Linked DNA regions of Homo sapiens: region 2 is linked to region 1. The links come from fine-mapping of genetic effects on gene expression. Tissue or cell type: whole blood. Region 1 holds a variant in brackets; the other region holds the start of a gene. All regions are shown on one strand. Distances are from middle to middle.

Region 1 (8,000 bases):
CCTGCCCTGCCTCCACTCAGAATCCCACTATGTGCTTGGAGCCATGCTGGGTGCTGGGGAGACACACTAACCACTTCCCCATATGCTCACAGCCAGAGAGACACACAGGCCAGCAGCCTGTAAACCACTGGGTGTGGGGTGTCTGGTCCTGGAGTGACAAGGACAGGGAGGAAGAAAGCCAGGCAGGTGGCCCATGAGCCGTGGAGTAGGTGGGGAAGGGGACATCTCCAAGGAGGTGACATCGGAGCAGTCCTCTAAGGAGTTTGGAGTCATTTTCAGTCACTCACAAGCCACAGGAGGGCTTCAGCCTGAAGCTCAGAGGTGATGTGCTTAGATGTCACAGAGCCGGGAGGGGAACAGGCTGGGCTGCAGAGAGGAGGCCAGGCACAGTCACCTCGTGTTGCTGTCCCCCAGGTAGGAGATAAGGGACCAGAGTCAGGGCAGGTGGGAGAAGGGGAGGTTCTTGGTTCAGCTGCTGCTGAGACAGTGACCCTGGGGACAGCCCAAATAAGAGAGAACTTTGCCACCCGCAGGGTCCCAGAGTAGCAGAAGCTTCAGGGCTGATGTGTGCCTGGTGAATCAGCCTGGCCCCAGACCTCCTCTCTCTGCTTGCTTTCCTGTCCACAATCCAGTGCTTCTGTCCTATGGTCCCCAGCGGCTGCTCCTGCATTCACCATCACATCTGCATTCCAGCAGCAGGAGGGAGGTAAAAGACATGAAGGACAGGCCCCACTCCTGTAAAACCCTACACAGAAGCGGCCCACGTCATCCCCCTTTCTGTCCACCCGCCGGAATGTGACGCACGCCTGAGTCGCTGCAAGGGCCCCTGGGGACGGAGTCTCTATTCCAGGCAGGCAAACACTCAGCTTAATTCAGGGTTCTGTTGATTAAAAAAAAAAAGTGGGGTCGGGGGGGCGGGGGAGAGCGGCTATGGAGACAAGTGGCTGTTTTGCCAGAGGGAAAATTCCACATGTGGCTTGGAGGCCAGACCAGAAGGACTCAGATAGGAGTTGGGCGCTTGAGGGAGGAAATGGGGGTACACTTCAGCGGCTCAGGCCAGGGTGTAAGTAGCAGGTATGTGGTGGTACTGTTTTCCGGAATGAAGAGGAAGGGGCGGGCAGAAGGCAGCGAGAGCTTTGTTTGGGGTGTGTCGAATTCAAGATGCCTCTGAGACATGGAAGTGGTGAGGTCAGGGGCCGGGAACCCTATGGTGGTGTTGGCCCTGAGTCCAAGCCAGGCACCACCGGGCACATAGAGGTCTTGAAAGCTCGAATGTGGGGAGGCCAGCAACAGAGGGAACACTACCTGCAAAGGGGCGAGGGCAGGACAAAGGCTGGCAGCACCACACAGGAGCCAGCAGGGAAGGGGCCACAGCCGGGACTCAGAGGAGGCAGCCACGTGCAGAAAGGCACCCATGGGAACATGGCTCCTGGGAGCTGGAGGACCTCAGCAGGCAGGGACTAGCACCCAAGAAGAAAACTCTGAGAAGTCAGGACAGGAGATGGTGTCGTCAGGGGGCTGCTGGAAGGTTTGGTGACCGGAGCAGCAGGTGCCAGAGCTGAAAGCACTGGTTAAACGTGATGGGTAAACACATGTCTATTTCAGCTTCTTTGAATCCCACTAAGGTGACAGTAAAGGCATGAAAAACATGGAAACATGTAAATCAACTAGGGTAAAGTGGTCAGGAGAAAAGAGGAGACCAAAAATATGTTGACAAAGGTTTGGAAGCTGGGAAGCAGGAGGACAGATGGAGACTGGCCTAGGAGACTGGAGAGGGTAGACACCAAGCCCTGCAGGAAGAAGAGCCACCAAGAATGAGGCAGTTCCCAACCCAGGACCCTGACAGGCAGGTCTCACCCCAGCCCATGAAGCCAGATGCTACTGATTCTCAAGCTCAGCTAGAGACAGGTTGAGTCTCCAGAAAAGCTGAGCCTGAGAGGTTCTGAACTTGGAGCCACCAGGAGCAGTTGTGGGTGGGGCAGGAGCTCTCGTGATGAAAACAACAGGGATTCAGTAAATGCATTCAAGCTAAAAAGGAAGACCTCCTCCCCCACTTCCCTCATCAACTCCCAGAATGCCCGGTGGGGCACACCATTGTTTTCAGAACACCAGCAATAAAGCAGACACTCCACATTTCCAGAGAGAAAAAGTAAGTCACACACAAGAGAATAGAAAATCAAAACGGTATCCAATTTCTTAACAGCAATTCAGAAAGCTAGCACATAGTAGAGAAATGCCTTCAAACATCTGAGGGAAAAAATGATTTCCCATCCAGAATTCTATACCTAGTCAAACTCTCAGGTATGAGAATAGAATAAAGACATTTCCAAACATGCACAGTCAAAAATTGTATCTACCACATGCCTTTTCTCAGAAAGTTACTTGAGGACGTGCTCTAGCAAAATGAGAGGAAAAAACAAAGAAAGAGAAACACAATTCAAGAACCAGGGAGACTCCAACACCAAAAACAAAAGGCCAAGAGAATTTTCAACATGAGTGAAAGAAGTTCTAGCATTACAGCTGCTCAGCATGCCTACAGTGCAAACAGTCCTGCTAAGACTCCAGGAAGAAATCCCAGAAGAAAAAAAAAATGAAGGTGATAGACTGCCAGTATTCTCAATAGGATGAAAGAAGTTTTACAATTCTTACAGAAAGTTCAAGAATGAATTAGTGACAGATGCAGTAAAAAACAAGCAAAACCTAAGGCCATTTGTAACCCAAGGGAAAACAAGAAGATGTAATCATAACAGACCACAGGACACAGCTAAAAACAGTGATTACATAGTGACATAAAGAGTTATATACTGTTTGTGTAAAATGCAAACAGTAAGTACTTATTTAGCCTAGAATTCTAATTTAACTGTGTTGGAAAGATAAGGGAGTGGGGAGGGCAGGGGCATGAGAACAAAATCTTGATCACTTCTCTTCCATGTTAGGCAGTCACTAGATAATGTCTAAAGTGACAAAATTTCAAGGAACAGCAATGTAAATGTGTAGTTTGGAAATGCCAAGGTAAAGCCAAGAGATAGTCGGTAGGGTTGAAGGGCTGCCTCTGGGAACAGAAATTAGAGATAGAAGATCTAGCGCCCAGGGAAGGCTGTTTAAAGATGGGAGAGCTTCACGGGTTTTCTCACTAAGGGTAAGAAAATTTAAGAAGGAAGTGATGGTGCCAGAGAATAGGGAATTCTGCCAATACCCTGGTGGGGAGGGGGAGGGGGAGGGGGAGGAGGATGAGAAGGAAGGAGGAGGGAGGAGGAAGGAAGAGGGAGGAGGAAGGAGGAGGAAGGAGGAGGAAGGAGGAGGGAGGAGGAAGGAGGAGGGAGGAGGGAGGAAGAGAGAGAAGGAAGAGATTGGCCAAGGAGCTCTGAGAGGGGAAGGTGGGTGCATGCCACCCTGGCTGGGAACAGCAGGTGTGTGGTGAAGGGGAAAGACCAGCAGGCCCTTTACACCGTGGGCACAGGCTCAGGACTGGCTGGGTGCTACGCAGGAGCCCTCTGACTAGCTGGGGCTGGGGCTGTGCAGGATAAGGCCAGTGAGAGAAGAGGACTCACTGGTGGGTGCCTCCTCCCCACCTTTAGCAAGGGTTGACAGAGGGATCTGGGCTCTTCCCTGGGCAGGCATCCCAGAGCTATGACCTGAATGATATCTTAGATGATCTCCAAGGCCCCGGGATCTAAGTCCCTGTTAAGTCCCCTGTTAAAGGACCTAGGTCCTCCCAATGGCCTGCAAACCACACCCAGTCTAGTCAGCATGTATCCCCACACCCCAGTCCCAGTGTCCCAAGAACCTCTTCCTCCAGCCCCGGGAGCAGGAAGGGCGGGCTGGGAGCTGCAGGATGGGGCCTGAATCTCTCATCAACTCACAGGGTCAGCCTGGGCCAGGCAGGCTGGGGGCCAGCCCAGGACCTCCTTCCTGGGTGGAGACCTTCCCACCCTTCCACTCACCTTCCGAGCATTGTGGGCCTTCCCAGGAACCCCCACATCTCCGTGGCCCTCAGACCTCTGACCTCCCAAGGGCACCCCACGTGTGTGCCCTCCAGCACCCTGGCCACAGAGCCACACACCTGGGCCTTCCCCTCTCCCCATCATCAGGTAACCCAGCACAGGCTGGCCCAACCCCTCTCTAGGCCTCAGCTTTCCTGTCAGGAAAATGCAGGGTTAGGAGCTGACCAGGGAGTCTTTGAAACCGCAAGGGTACCCTTGGGAGACCCCGTGCAGGTCTTGTCAAGGCAGGACAGGGAAGTGGTGATGATGAGAGGCAGCTGGTCTGGGTGCTCAGCCCCACCCCAGCACCCGCCCAATGGGCCCCCTGAGGGAAGCTGCCCATGCTCTCTGCGCCCCATTTTCTGGCCTCTGGCATGCAGAGGGCAGCCCTGCCTGCTTCCCAGTATGGCTGTGAAGCCAAAGGCGGCGATCAATGGGATGTTCTCAGAATGACAGGTGCTCTGTGATCAGCAGCAGCTGCTACAGGGATGGCCATCGGGTGCAGGGCAGGATGTCCCTGAGGAGGCACCTCAGCAGACGTGATGGGTGCCTGTGCCCACAGTTGGGCCATGAGAAGAAGTATGTGGCCCGGCCTGCCCTACACCATCAGGGGGTGCTTGGACCAGTGGCGGCTGGAAATAACCCATGAACAGGGGAGAGAAGGGGTGAATGCCTTGTAGGCCTGGAACACTGTGGGGCTGTCGAAGGTGCTTCTGCCTCCAGGAAGCCCTCCCTGACTGTGGAGACACAAGAAGCTCTCCAGGTCTCTGGGTCCCTCTGGTACTCTGTGCCCTGAACCA[C/G]CACCCTTAGGCCCAGATCTATTCCTGATCCTTCTCTAGACTTCAGTCAGTTTCCTCTTGATGTCCTGGATGGCCACAACCATAGTGTCCCCTCCGCTCCTCTCTCCCCCGCTTCCTTCCACATTGCCCCTCCTCCCCTTTCCCCTTCCCCACCACTGCTCCCCTCCTTCCTCCAGCACCCTTCTCCCCGCTGCCCTCCCCTCCCCTCCCCGCTGCCCTCCTCTGCCTCTCTCCGTTGCCCCCTCCTCCCTCCCCCACCAGAGCCCTGGAAGGCTAGGTACAGCGAGGAAGTGGCCACTCCATGACCCCCAGTGATTTCACTTCTCTGAGCCTCAAGAGTCTCACCTGTCCAGGGTCCATGGGATATGCCTGACTCAGCCCCTGGCACATGGTCTTGCAGTGGCCTGAGCTGGACATGCCCCTGGTAGGAAGCTGGAAAGGAGGCCCTGCCCGTGTACCAGGAGCCTCTGCTCCAGGGGGGTGGCCTGAGGCCCAGGCAGACCTCCACCTCCAGGCAGCCCTGCAGGTGGACAGCTGGGCCTCAGGCTTAGGACCTGGGACAACTGCCTAGACTACCCCCAGCCTTCCTGACAGGTGATAGCTTCATTGTCCCCAGGACACACACCAGCCCGGTCCCCACCCTACCCTTTCCCAGCACCCCTGAGGGAAGGCCTGGCCCCTCAGGCACAGTGGGGGTTGCCCGGCATCTTGGCAGATGGGCAGCGTTAGAGAAGCCTTGGACCTGGCCCTGCAAATGGAGGTACCAGAGGGCTGAACTAGATGAGGGACTTGAAGGCTCAGATGCCTGTGCGGGACCTGGCAGGGTGGGGGCTTCCGGGCTGGGAGACTAGGACAGGGTGCCTGTGTCCCCTCCTGGGAGTGGGGCCGTCAGAGCTCCGACCGCACAGGGTCATGGGGAGCAAGAGGAACCAGGATACCCACAAGCTGCTCGCTCAGACGGGCTCTGCGACTCCACAACTCACCTTCCCCTACTGCAAGATCAGGGAGATGGGACGCAGTCCCCGCCCATGCCCAGGGCCTTGGCAGGGTCAGGAGAGCCAGTGCAGGCAAAGCGCCAAGCACCCTGCTGCCTGGGAGACCACAGTTGCAGCAGGAAGCCCTCCTCAGGTCTGCCCGCCTCCCCGGAGCATGTTCCCTCTGTAGCTCCCGGTAGGGCCTGTGTGGAGAAGGTTGCTGATGGCATCACTGAGCGGCCCAGCTGTGGGGTGAAAGGCAAGGCTGGGGCTGATGCTCCCCAAGGCAGGAGGAGACCATGGTCTGGCTGGGGCTGCCCCAGGTGACAACTGTAGGGTGTGGGGAAGGTGGCTGCCACCGCCGTGGTCCACAGGGCCTGGCCAGGGCTCCATGGGGCAGAAGCCATGCCCAGCTCAGGGGGCTTCACTCCACTCTCCCACTTTGACCTGGTCCCTCCCCTCTCCCCCAGAGTGACCTGGACACTAGCCTCCTCCCAGTGGGAGACAGATGTGGGCAATGCAGCTGCTGTTCCCTGCTCAGGGCAGGCTGGTGCCCAAGGACTGCCCACCAGACCAGGGGATAAGAGGTTGGCAGCATCGTCCATGGTTATCCCACAGCTAGGAGGCTGTGGGTGTGGGAGAACATGCTGGGTAGGGGTGCCTGTGTGCCTCTGGAGTCGAGGCAATTAGAGGCCCTGTGGAAGCCCCTGCACGCAAGGGGCCCACGCGCCAGGGCAGAGGACATAGCCCCTTCTTGCTTCCCTGAGGGACGGGAGGCCTGTGGACTTCTGGACACAATGGCAGAGTCAGGGCAGCCAAGCCGGGCCAGTGCCCTGGAGCCGAGTCCTCCCCCCACCTGCCCACATGCCCCACCCCTCTCCAAGCTTCTCCCCTCATAGGATCCCAGAGCCCCTTGGGACCTCTGTGAAGACTGCATAGATGTGAGGGAGTCTCAGCCTTAGGGTGGGCACCTGGGCGCAGCTGTCAGGCCCCAAGTCAGCCCCAGGCACGTGGACCTGGGAGCCAGCCTCAAGGGCAGGGGTCCCCGAGCATCCCCACTGCTGCCCCGCCAGCAACCGTGTCACTGGGAGGCAAGAGGCTGGGTTCCTGGGGTGGGCAGGCTTCCCCGCTTCACTCCATTTGCAGCCCCTGTCTTGCAGAGGCAAAATGGAGGTTCAGAGAGGTGAGCAAACACCAGGTCCCATGTTTGCACCTGGCTGTGACCGTGCAGTCCACTGGGCCCAGCAGCAGGAACTGGGGCAAGTGCCCCGAGACGGGACCGAGACAACAGTGGGGAAGGTGGGACAGGCAGCTGGGGGAAGGCCAGAGTGTCCAGCACCAGCGCCAGGGGCCGTTCCGACAGGCTGAGGAGCGGCGGGGAGCGGGGCTTGCCAAATATGTCCAGATGGGGCTGGAGCCCCAGCAACTTCCTGCCCTCCCAGCCTGCTCCCCCACCTCCTCACCCCCTTCCCAGGCTGTCAGCAGGGGCTGGGGGGCAGCAGAACCCCACTTAGCCACAAGGAGTGCAGCCAGGGGCTGGCTCCCGGGAGGACATGGGCAGAGGCTTAGGTCCCCTTACACACACACACTGCTGCATTCGTGCAGGATGGGCTCAGCGCCTGCTGTGCCTGGCGTGGCTGTGTGCATGGCATGGTGGTGGCATGGTGGGAGTGGTGTGGCACATGGTGTGGCACATGGCATGGCTGGGGCTGGGGCTGGGTTGTGTAGCATGTGGAGTGGCAAGGTGCGTGACATGGTGTATGGCATGGTAGTGTGCCCCTCGAGCCATGTGTCCAGGTGGGGCAGATCATGGAGGGCGCCCAGGTGCGGTGCTGAGGCTGAGCATGCACTGGCTGGGGAGGGTGGGCAGAGCAGGAGGAAATCCCTTGTTCTCCGGAGCTGGAGAGCCAGAAAGAGCCCTGCAGCCTGGGCCTCATCATCACACCTCGCCCTCAAGGCCTCCAGGCACAGCATCCACTGCCAGCCTCTGCTCCTGCCTCTGAGGGTCTGTCTCCAAGGTCTTTTGGGGGCTGCCCCAGCTCCCCCAACACAGACAGCACCAGAGCTGGGCCCACCTGTGAGGTGCTGAGTTCCCCATCTCAGAGACTGTGCGAGCAGAGGCAGGGAGGCGCTTGATGTCGGATGGAGAAAGGACAGGGGAGGGGTGTGGGGCTCAGGGCCCCGCCAGGTGAAGGAACAAGCTTGGAAGGGTGTCCTTATGTCTGAGAGTTGGGGAGACACCC
Region 2 (8,000 bases), 72 kb after region 1:
AGGGTGGGAGCTCTAAACAGGACATGAGTGTCAATGACACCCTCACGTCCAGCTCAGACCACATGCCGCAAACTGCACACTGCACACTCTGCCCTCTCTGCTGGCCCACAGGCCCCTCCCGTGGATGGACCTGCAGGGTTGCCTCCCCTCATGTCGCCCCCAGCCGCACCTGAAGGCCCCCTCAGTTGGCCCTCTCAGCCCAGGCCCCAACCAGCAGGAAGCCTGTCAGGCCTCCTTCCAGGGAGGTTCCAAACCTGCCCCTCAAATCCCCCCATGCCCCATCCAAGTCCACACCACCTCTCATCTGGACCACAGCAGAGACCTCCTGCACTGCCCCTCCCCTCAACCCCTCATCAGCACATCAGCCAGAGGCTCCTTGGAGAACAGAAGGGGCTCAGAACCCTGCAGCGGCGTCCACTGCACACACAGGAAGAACTCAAGTGCTCATAGGCAGTGAGTCATTTCCTTAGGCATTGTGGTGACCCGGGATCATGTGCCTCCCCGAAGCCTGCACATGCACTCTAATGATGCAAGCTACCACCAGGCGGTCAGCTTTGCCAGCTGACGTCCCAAACAGCTGGCATGGGGCATGCACACAGTAGGTGCTTAATAAATGTGTGTCGGGTTAAGATAGGCCCAAAGCCATTTCAAATGTCCAGGCAGTGGTGTAGGCAGGGGTCAGCTCTGAAGCTGGCCTCCTCTCATTCGGGAGACCCCTCAGAGGTCCCAGCCTCCAGGATGCAGTGTTCAGAGCAATACTTCTCAGTGCACGTCTGGCTGTGTCCCTGCCCAGCGCTCCCAGGGTCACCCCTCTCTCTAGACTCACTTTCTGCCCCGTCACCCCACTGTACACCCTTGGTCCCAGCCCCTTCCAGTGGCTCAGCTTCCTGAACACTCCAAGCCTGGGCTCACCTCTAAGCCGTTATCTATGCTATTCTCTCAGCCAGGATGCCCTTCCCATACCCAAACAATCCGTGCTCACCTTTAAGACTGGCTGAGGCATCACCTCCTCTGAGAAGCCACCTCTCCCAAACCTGAGCCCAGATGAGCCAAAGCCCTTCCTTCCTCCAGTCAGCCTGGATCCTCTCATCCGGCAGAACTGTCGCCTTGCTTCTCTGAAGCGGTGAATGCCCTGGGGCTGGGGACGCACAGGCTCGCTGGCCCACAACCAAAGCCGCTTCCTCTGGAGGAGGAAGTCCAGGGGTGCCAGGGTTCCACTTGCTTTCTTCTTCACCCAGCCTAAAGGGCAATTTTCCCACATTCCCTCAGAACCAGGAAGTTCCCCCATTCACACTGAGCCTGTTCATGACAAAAAAAAAGGTCTCTCCGATTTCCTCTGCTCAACCAGTTCCCTGGCTACCTGAGGCCCTGCTTCACCTGGAGGAAGACAGTGGTAAGTTTCCAGCATCTCCACCACACCTCAGCGCCAGAGGACCCTCAGCCTCCCTCGCACACCTCTGGGCAGTTTGGTAACTCATCCCATCTCCTCCTGCCGCTTCATCCTCTAAGCCCTCCCCAGGGAACCCAGGAGGCGTCTGGAACCTGTTGGGGACAGTCCCTCACACCTGCCCCATTGAGTAAGGGTTCATGTGGATGCCCATCCTCCCCCAGGAGTCCCAAATCTAAGACACTCTGAGACTCCTGTCACCCACCCCCACCTTACACAGCCGGCCTTTCTGTGCAGTCCTTCCAGGAAACTCTGGCTGGACCTGGGCTCTCGGCTTGACTGCACTCTCCCCAAGTCCCCAGGGCGGCCAGTGGTGACTATTCTTGAAAACGAGCTTGGCAGAGGATCTGGGGACACGCACTCCAGATGCAAACACGTTTGCACTCTTTGGGCTGGAATCCCCTCGAGCGGTACACTGCACCCGTGGGCTTGCTAAGAAACCACCTCACAGAGGGCAGATTGATTGGACAAAAGGCATTTGGTCCCCAAATTGATTGACGTGTGTGAATGGGAGTTTTCAGAACAAAGACCCAAAGATATGGGGGAAACAGGCTGGGCGCGGTGGCTCACGCCTGTAATCCCAGCACTTTGGGAGGCCGAGGGGGGGCGGATCACGAGGTCAGGAGATCGAGACCATCCTGGCTAACACGGTGAAACTCCGTCTCTACTAAAAATACAAAAAAATTAGCGGGGGCTGTGGCGGGCGCCTGTAGTCCCAGCTACTCGGGAGGCTGAGGCAGGAGAATGGCGTGAACCCGGGAGGCGGAGCTTGCAGCGAGCCGAGATCGCGCCACTGCACTTCAGCCTGGGTGACAGAGCAAGACTCCGTCTCAAAAAAAAAAAAAAAAAAAAAAAAAGATATGGGGGAAATTGCCATTTCTGATGCTTAGGCTCAACAAAGTATGGACATCCATGCGGGAACACAGATGAACCAAGGGACCTGCACTAATGCTCCTGGACCGCAAGGGGAAGCGCAGCGAGGGCTGTTGGTCTAGATTTCTTGAACTTTCTGAGCAGCATTCCTTCCTTCTGGGCATGGAGCAGGACCCTCCTGGAATGGGGTCTTATGCCCTACAGTCAAACAAGAGAGGTCAGATAATTTATGGCCAGCTTCTAAACACAAAGGTGGAGGGAAAGTTAGAGCAATATTTTTAGGTTTGATGTCTGGCTGTGTGGAAAGGCGGGGTTCTGATTTCTATGACCTGCCCTGGGGAAAATGGATTCCAGTTTCTAAGGCCAGCTTCGGGGAAAATGGCACTGAGAGACAGGAGAGCAAGAGAAGGTCAGAGAAACACTTTTTCTTCCGAAGCTGCTTCTGAGGCCTTCATTTTGGGGTATTGTTTTCTGATGCCCAACATATCTGAGCTGCTGAACGAAGGGTAGCTGCTGAACCACTCCCACGGTGACTTGGAATGGCTTAGCCAGCCGGCCTTGGGCCACCTGGCTCTGGCCCCCCTGCCCACCAGGACTTTGGCCGGCTCTCGCTCGCCTCTGCGATGTCCGTCCCACCCTGTCTCACCCCTGCAGTTTTCTGCTCTGTGGAGCGATGATTGACACATGGCAGGGGGACACTGGTTTTGACATTTGAGCCTGTGCCCAGCCCTTGCCTGGGGAGGAGGTGGGGCAGGAGTCCTGAATGAGCATCTCCCTACTTAGTGACAGTCAGGGGCACGGAGAATGGTGCCCAGGCCAAGGGCAGGGCTTGGGCCAAGTGTGCGCAGCGTGGGGTGTGTGTGCTCCAGCGGCTCCTGCTGCGGAGGGCGGCATGAGGCTTGTTTACCTGTGTGCTGGCATCTCTGGTGGCCCCTGCAAGGGTGGGGAAGTGGCAGGCAGGGTGAAATGGGGAAAAGTGGGCTCTCAACTGCTCCTAGCAGCCTCCGGGTCTGGGGAGGGAAGTGAGGAGGGGCCCAGAGCTGTCTCCTGGTCACTCTTCTGGGGCTCTGTGCAGACCTTTGGCAGGGCCAGGCTACACCACACCCTCTACAACCTCCCCTGACTTCTTCCCCTAACCCCTCACCACCATTCCTCCGCTTTTCTCTCCCCGCCCCTGCCTCCCCTCCATTCTCTCCTTCCCTCCACCTCCCGGTCCCATCCCCTGCCCACACTGCCCCTCCTCAGGCCCAAAGTGGACACCGGTGCTGCCTGAGGGTCAGAGTGTCCACCTCCAGCAGCCCGGGCACCGGGCAGGATTCAAGCTGGAGGGGGCTGGGGCGGGCGAAGCCGGGCACGGGGCGAGCCCGCTGGTGGGCGGGGCAGGGGCGGGTCCTTCGAGGGGAGGGGCGGGCTCGGCCAGTGAGAGCGCAGAAACCGTGGCACGGGCGCTCCCGGAACTGGCGATTGCAAAGCGCGAGGGCTGGAACTCAGACCCAGAGGGGCGGTCCCTGTTGCAAGTCATCTCCCGAAAGGGCGGGGCCGGGGCTCATCCCGGAAGGACCGGTGTCTAGGTCACCCTGGAGCGCTCACCCCACCGGCACCCGTGCCCAAGCCCGCCCCTGCAAAGGCAGGTACTCGAGCACACTCCGGAGAGGGCGGCCTCTGAGCCCCGAACCCCGAACTCCGGCGCAGCGTCGCACCTCTGCCCAATGAGGTGCCCCTGACGTGCCTGCTGCGGCTGCCCTGCTCCCCCCAGCCTCCCTGCATCCCGGGATGGGGGAGGGCGCCAGGCGCAGCTCCCGGACCCTCAGGGGTCTCCCCGCCCTACCCCACCAGCCTGGGTTCGGTACCTCGGGGCTCAGATGTGCAGTCAGCTGTTAATGTGGCAAAATTTGGGGAAGTCCTCTGCAGCCGCAAAATCCAGTTCCCACCAGTTGGAGGCCGGGCGGGGAAGGGTGGGGACAGACAGCACTCCGCTGTGGGAGGTAAGGCAGAGCTACTGGGGAGCCTGGAAGGCTGAGCTATGTCTCCCCTACGCAAGACCATTCCAGAAGCCCCTTGGAGCTCTGGCTGCTGGCCACAGGGGAAGGTAGACCTTCCCTGAGAGCTGCACTGTGTTGGGGACAGGGCCACTGTGGGCCTACGGAGGGCCTCCAGGCACAGGGACCCACATCAGCCCTCTGGCCACAGAAGGCGCTGATGATTTGAGGTGGACTCAGCCACCACTCCGAGCCTCTGCCTCCCTCTAAAAGTGGGGCATGGCACATTCCTGTGTCAGGCAACCAGGCACTGAGCCTGGCCCACCTGCAGGGGTCGGGGGGAGCAGCTTGTCCCTGTCTCCCCTCCCCGGGAGGCTGTGTGCCTGGAGACCAGAGCTGTCAAAAGTGGAGGAGGGGGACCCCCTGATGTGTCCTCTAAGGTCCAGGTAGCAGGAGAGCTCCACTGGGGAGGGGGTCCTGCAGTGCTGTCCTCTCTTGCAGGCAAGGCCAGGCGGGTGCTGCCTGGGACCCAGTGACTCAGCACCCCTGCCCGGATCAACTGGACTTTTGCCCCCTGCTCCGCCAGCCTCCTGCTTGGATCTCTCCTGGGTCTCCCTGCTGCGCCTGTCCAGGATGCAGGGAGCTCGGGCTCCCAGGGACCAGGGCCGGTCCCCCGGCAGGATGAGCGCTCTAGGCCGGTCCTCGGTCATCTTGCTTACCTACGTGCTGGCCGCCACAGAACTTACCTGCCTCTTCATGCAGTTCTCCATCGTGCCAGTGAGTAACACACCCCAGCCCCTGCAGCCCCAGCCAGGGCTGAACCGCTGTTCCTCCTGCCCTCCATCTGGGCCGTCGCAGAGAGTGGGGGTGGGGGTTTCATGCTGCCAGGGCCCCTCCCAGTTGGGACTCATGCCACGCTTAAGCTGAGTAAGTTAAGGACTCTGCCTCTGGACCCCCGTCAGCACATCCTGTGCTCCAGCTTCAGTGCCAGCCCCGGGAGAAGCCATGGGGAGCCACCCCACTTCCCTCCTGGGGGCAGCACCTCCTCAAACCTTCCTAGCGCTGTTCCTCCTGCCTCTCACCCGGCAGCCTTTGCCCTCTGGAGTCCCTGCCCCAAGGGCTGTTCAATCCGGTGTGGCTCTGGGCGGATCACCCCTCAGAGAGGCTCTCCTTGCACCTGCCCGCAGCTTCTATCTCTCCCCTCCATCTTCTTGGGTCCTTGTTGTCCACTAAATGATCTGTGGCGGCAAATTGATCTCAAGCTTTTTCTTGCAAGAGATAGAATGCTGTCTTATTTTATTATCTCTGTTGCCAAATGCGGAAACATTTCATTGGCAAATTCATGTTAGTTTAGTGTATCATTCAGTAGTCTATACCACAGTGTGTGGCTCTGGAAGCTGTAATAGTAATGATTAAATTATATTCACCAAGTCTGGAGAGGCTTGGGAACAAAGTCTCACATCACCAAGAAGCTCAGGCAGAGTCAGGGCCAACCTCGGCCCTTCCTGTGTTTGCTTCTGGGAAGCCCGGCGTGCGTGGGCTCAGACAGCTGCCCTCCTCCTCTCAGCCCTCAGAGCCTGGACCTGGGCATCTAGGCGGGAGTGGGGATGGGCCTTTGGCACCATTCCGGGCCTGGCAGAGGCTCCCAGCCCGAGGGTGAGCCTAAGGATCCCTCCCCGCCGTGCCTCAGGCGCCCCGCCCACTCCTGCTAAATGGCTGGGGCCAAGCCCTGAATCTCCTCCCTACCCGTGGGGAAGGCTGGGCAGGAGCCTTGCTTTTCTCATCATAAAATGGGTAATAACAGTCCCTCCCTGTAGGATTGGTGCGGGGAAGAGTGAATGAGAAGTCAGAACCCTTCCCACAGCTGGGCACAGAGCACAGGTGGAGTGGCTTCAGCCACCCATCGACTCTCATGGGGAGTAACTCCGTGCTGAGTGCCCAGGAGCTGACCCTGATGTCAGAACCTGAAATATTGCAGAGTGTAAAAATCCTCAACAGCCCACTCCCTCGGAGCTGGGGGTCCACACGCACAGGGGCTGCAGTGGGAAGGGGGCGAGGTCTTCCTCATAGAGAAGGCAACCTTGGAGCAGGGCTGGAAGGAAGCAGGAGAGGCCCCGGGGCAGTGGAGAGAGCAGAGTGGCTAGAGTGGACCGGTTGAGGCCAGAATGGGACCACACCCCACCTGCTGCTCAAAGAACTCCGGGCTGGTGATGGCTGTGGAGGAGGTGAGAGGTGGCTGGATTTTGCATGTGTTGTCAATGGACTGTAGTGGGTGTGAGAGAAAGCAGGGCTCAGGGAGCACTGAAGATCTGGGCCTGAGCCCATAAGGAAGGAGGCATGGACAGGAGGAGAGGGAAAGATGGGAGCCCAGTTGGGGACGGGTTGAGTTTGAGACGATTTTCGACCCCAGTGGAGAGCCGAAGGGAGCTGGACACAAGGCAGTTCAGCACAGAGGCTCTGGGGCCCTGCAGCATGGAGACGGTCATGGGCTGGGCTCCCCCAGAGGGCAGGGAGGCTGGAGGTCGGATGAGCTGGGGGAACTGGCAGTGGTGATGGAGGAGGGGCAAAGGACCCAGCACAGCCCAGAGCAGCAGACCATCGTGGAGGAGGGAAGAAGCCACGAAGGCAACTGTCACTCCAGTGGGAGGCCTGCCAAAGCGGACCACTGGAGGCAGCAGTGTGGGGTCAATGGGGACCTCAGGGAGAGGGGAGACAGCAGGAGGTTTTTTGTCCTTGCAATAGTTTGCTCAGAATGAAGGTTTCCAGCTTCATCCATGTACAAAGCACATGAACTCATCCTTTTTTATGGCTGCATAGTATTCCATGGTTTATATGTGCCACATTTTCTTAATCCAGTCTGTCATTGATGGACATTTGGGTTGGTTCCAAGTCTTTGCTATTGTAAACAGTGCCGCGATAAAAATACGTGTGCATGTGTCTTTATAGTATAGTCCCCTGGGGCCTGCTCCGAGGGCTGGGAGAGAAGGAAAGAGATGGAAAGAGAGGAGGCTGCAAGGTGAGGCAGCTGCTCAGAGCTCCGCCCTCAAATATGTGGGAGTAGCTGTAGGGGAGGGTCAAGAGAACGCAAGAGAAGTAACAGGATGTGAGCATGCTCCATTGCCACCCCCTCAAAAGGGGATTGTGCAGAGAAACGGGGAGAGAGGAGCACTGGGAGCTTGGTCCAGTGGGTGCCCCCACAGAAGGGGACTGTGCAGAGAAACGGAGAGAGGAACATTGGGAGCCCTGCCCTTGAGGAGGCAAAAGGTTGGGATGTGACGCAGGCAGGGAGGATGACTTGGGTAGGCGAGGACAGGTGGGCAGGCTTGGGGATGAGAAACTCAGCATCCTCTATGAACAGACACTTCTCAAAAGAAGACCTTTATGCAGCCAACAGACACATGAGAAAATGCTCATCATCACTGGTCATCAGAGAAATGCAAGTCAAAACCACAATGAGATACCATCTCACACCAGTTAGAATGGCGATCATGAAAAAGTCAGGAAACAACAGATGCTGGAGAGGACGTGGAGAAATAGGAACACTTTTACACTGTTGGTGGGACTGTAAACTAGTTCAACCATTGTGGAAGACATGTGGCGATTCTTCAAGGATCTAGAACTAGAAATACCATTTGACCCAGCGATCCCATTACTGGGTATATACCCAAAGGATTATAAATCATGCTACTATAAAGACACAT

What was found. PIP is the estimated chance that this variant, and not a neighbour inherited with it, causes the effect.
Region 2: it holds the start of SLC67A1, and the variant in region 1 is fine-mapped to the expression of SLC67A1 in whole blood (INTERVAL, PIP 0.98).

The regions. Positions count from the first base shown.
Region 1 is chr11:2,826,734-2,834,733 of GRCh38, forward strand. The region is part of intron 15 of KCNQ1 (potassium voltage-gated channel subfamily Q member 1); the gene reads left to right. Among named protein-coding and RNA genes, the nearest start is that of KCNQ1-AS1, 31 kb to the right of the region's middle. RefSeq lists an enhancer at 832-1,732. The variant C/G (reference allele first, on the strand shown) is at 4,784.
Region 2 is chr11:2,898,414-2,906,413 of GRCh38, forward strand. It overlaps SLC67A1 (solute carrier family 67 member 1), which reads left to right and starts at 3,865. Exons shown (of 11, transcript NM_002555.6): 1 at 3,865-3,951; 2 at 4,801-5,076. The coding sequence starts at 4,933. It overlaps SLC67A1-AS (SLC67A1 antisense RNA), which reads right to left and starts at 5,162. Exons shown (of 3, transcript NR_169305.1): 1 at 5,046-5,162; 2 at 4,171-4,296. RefSeq lists a silencer at 3,997-4,126 and an enhancer at 5,052-5,553.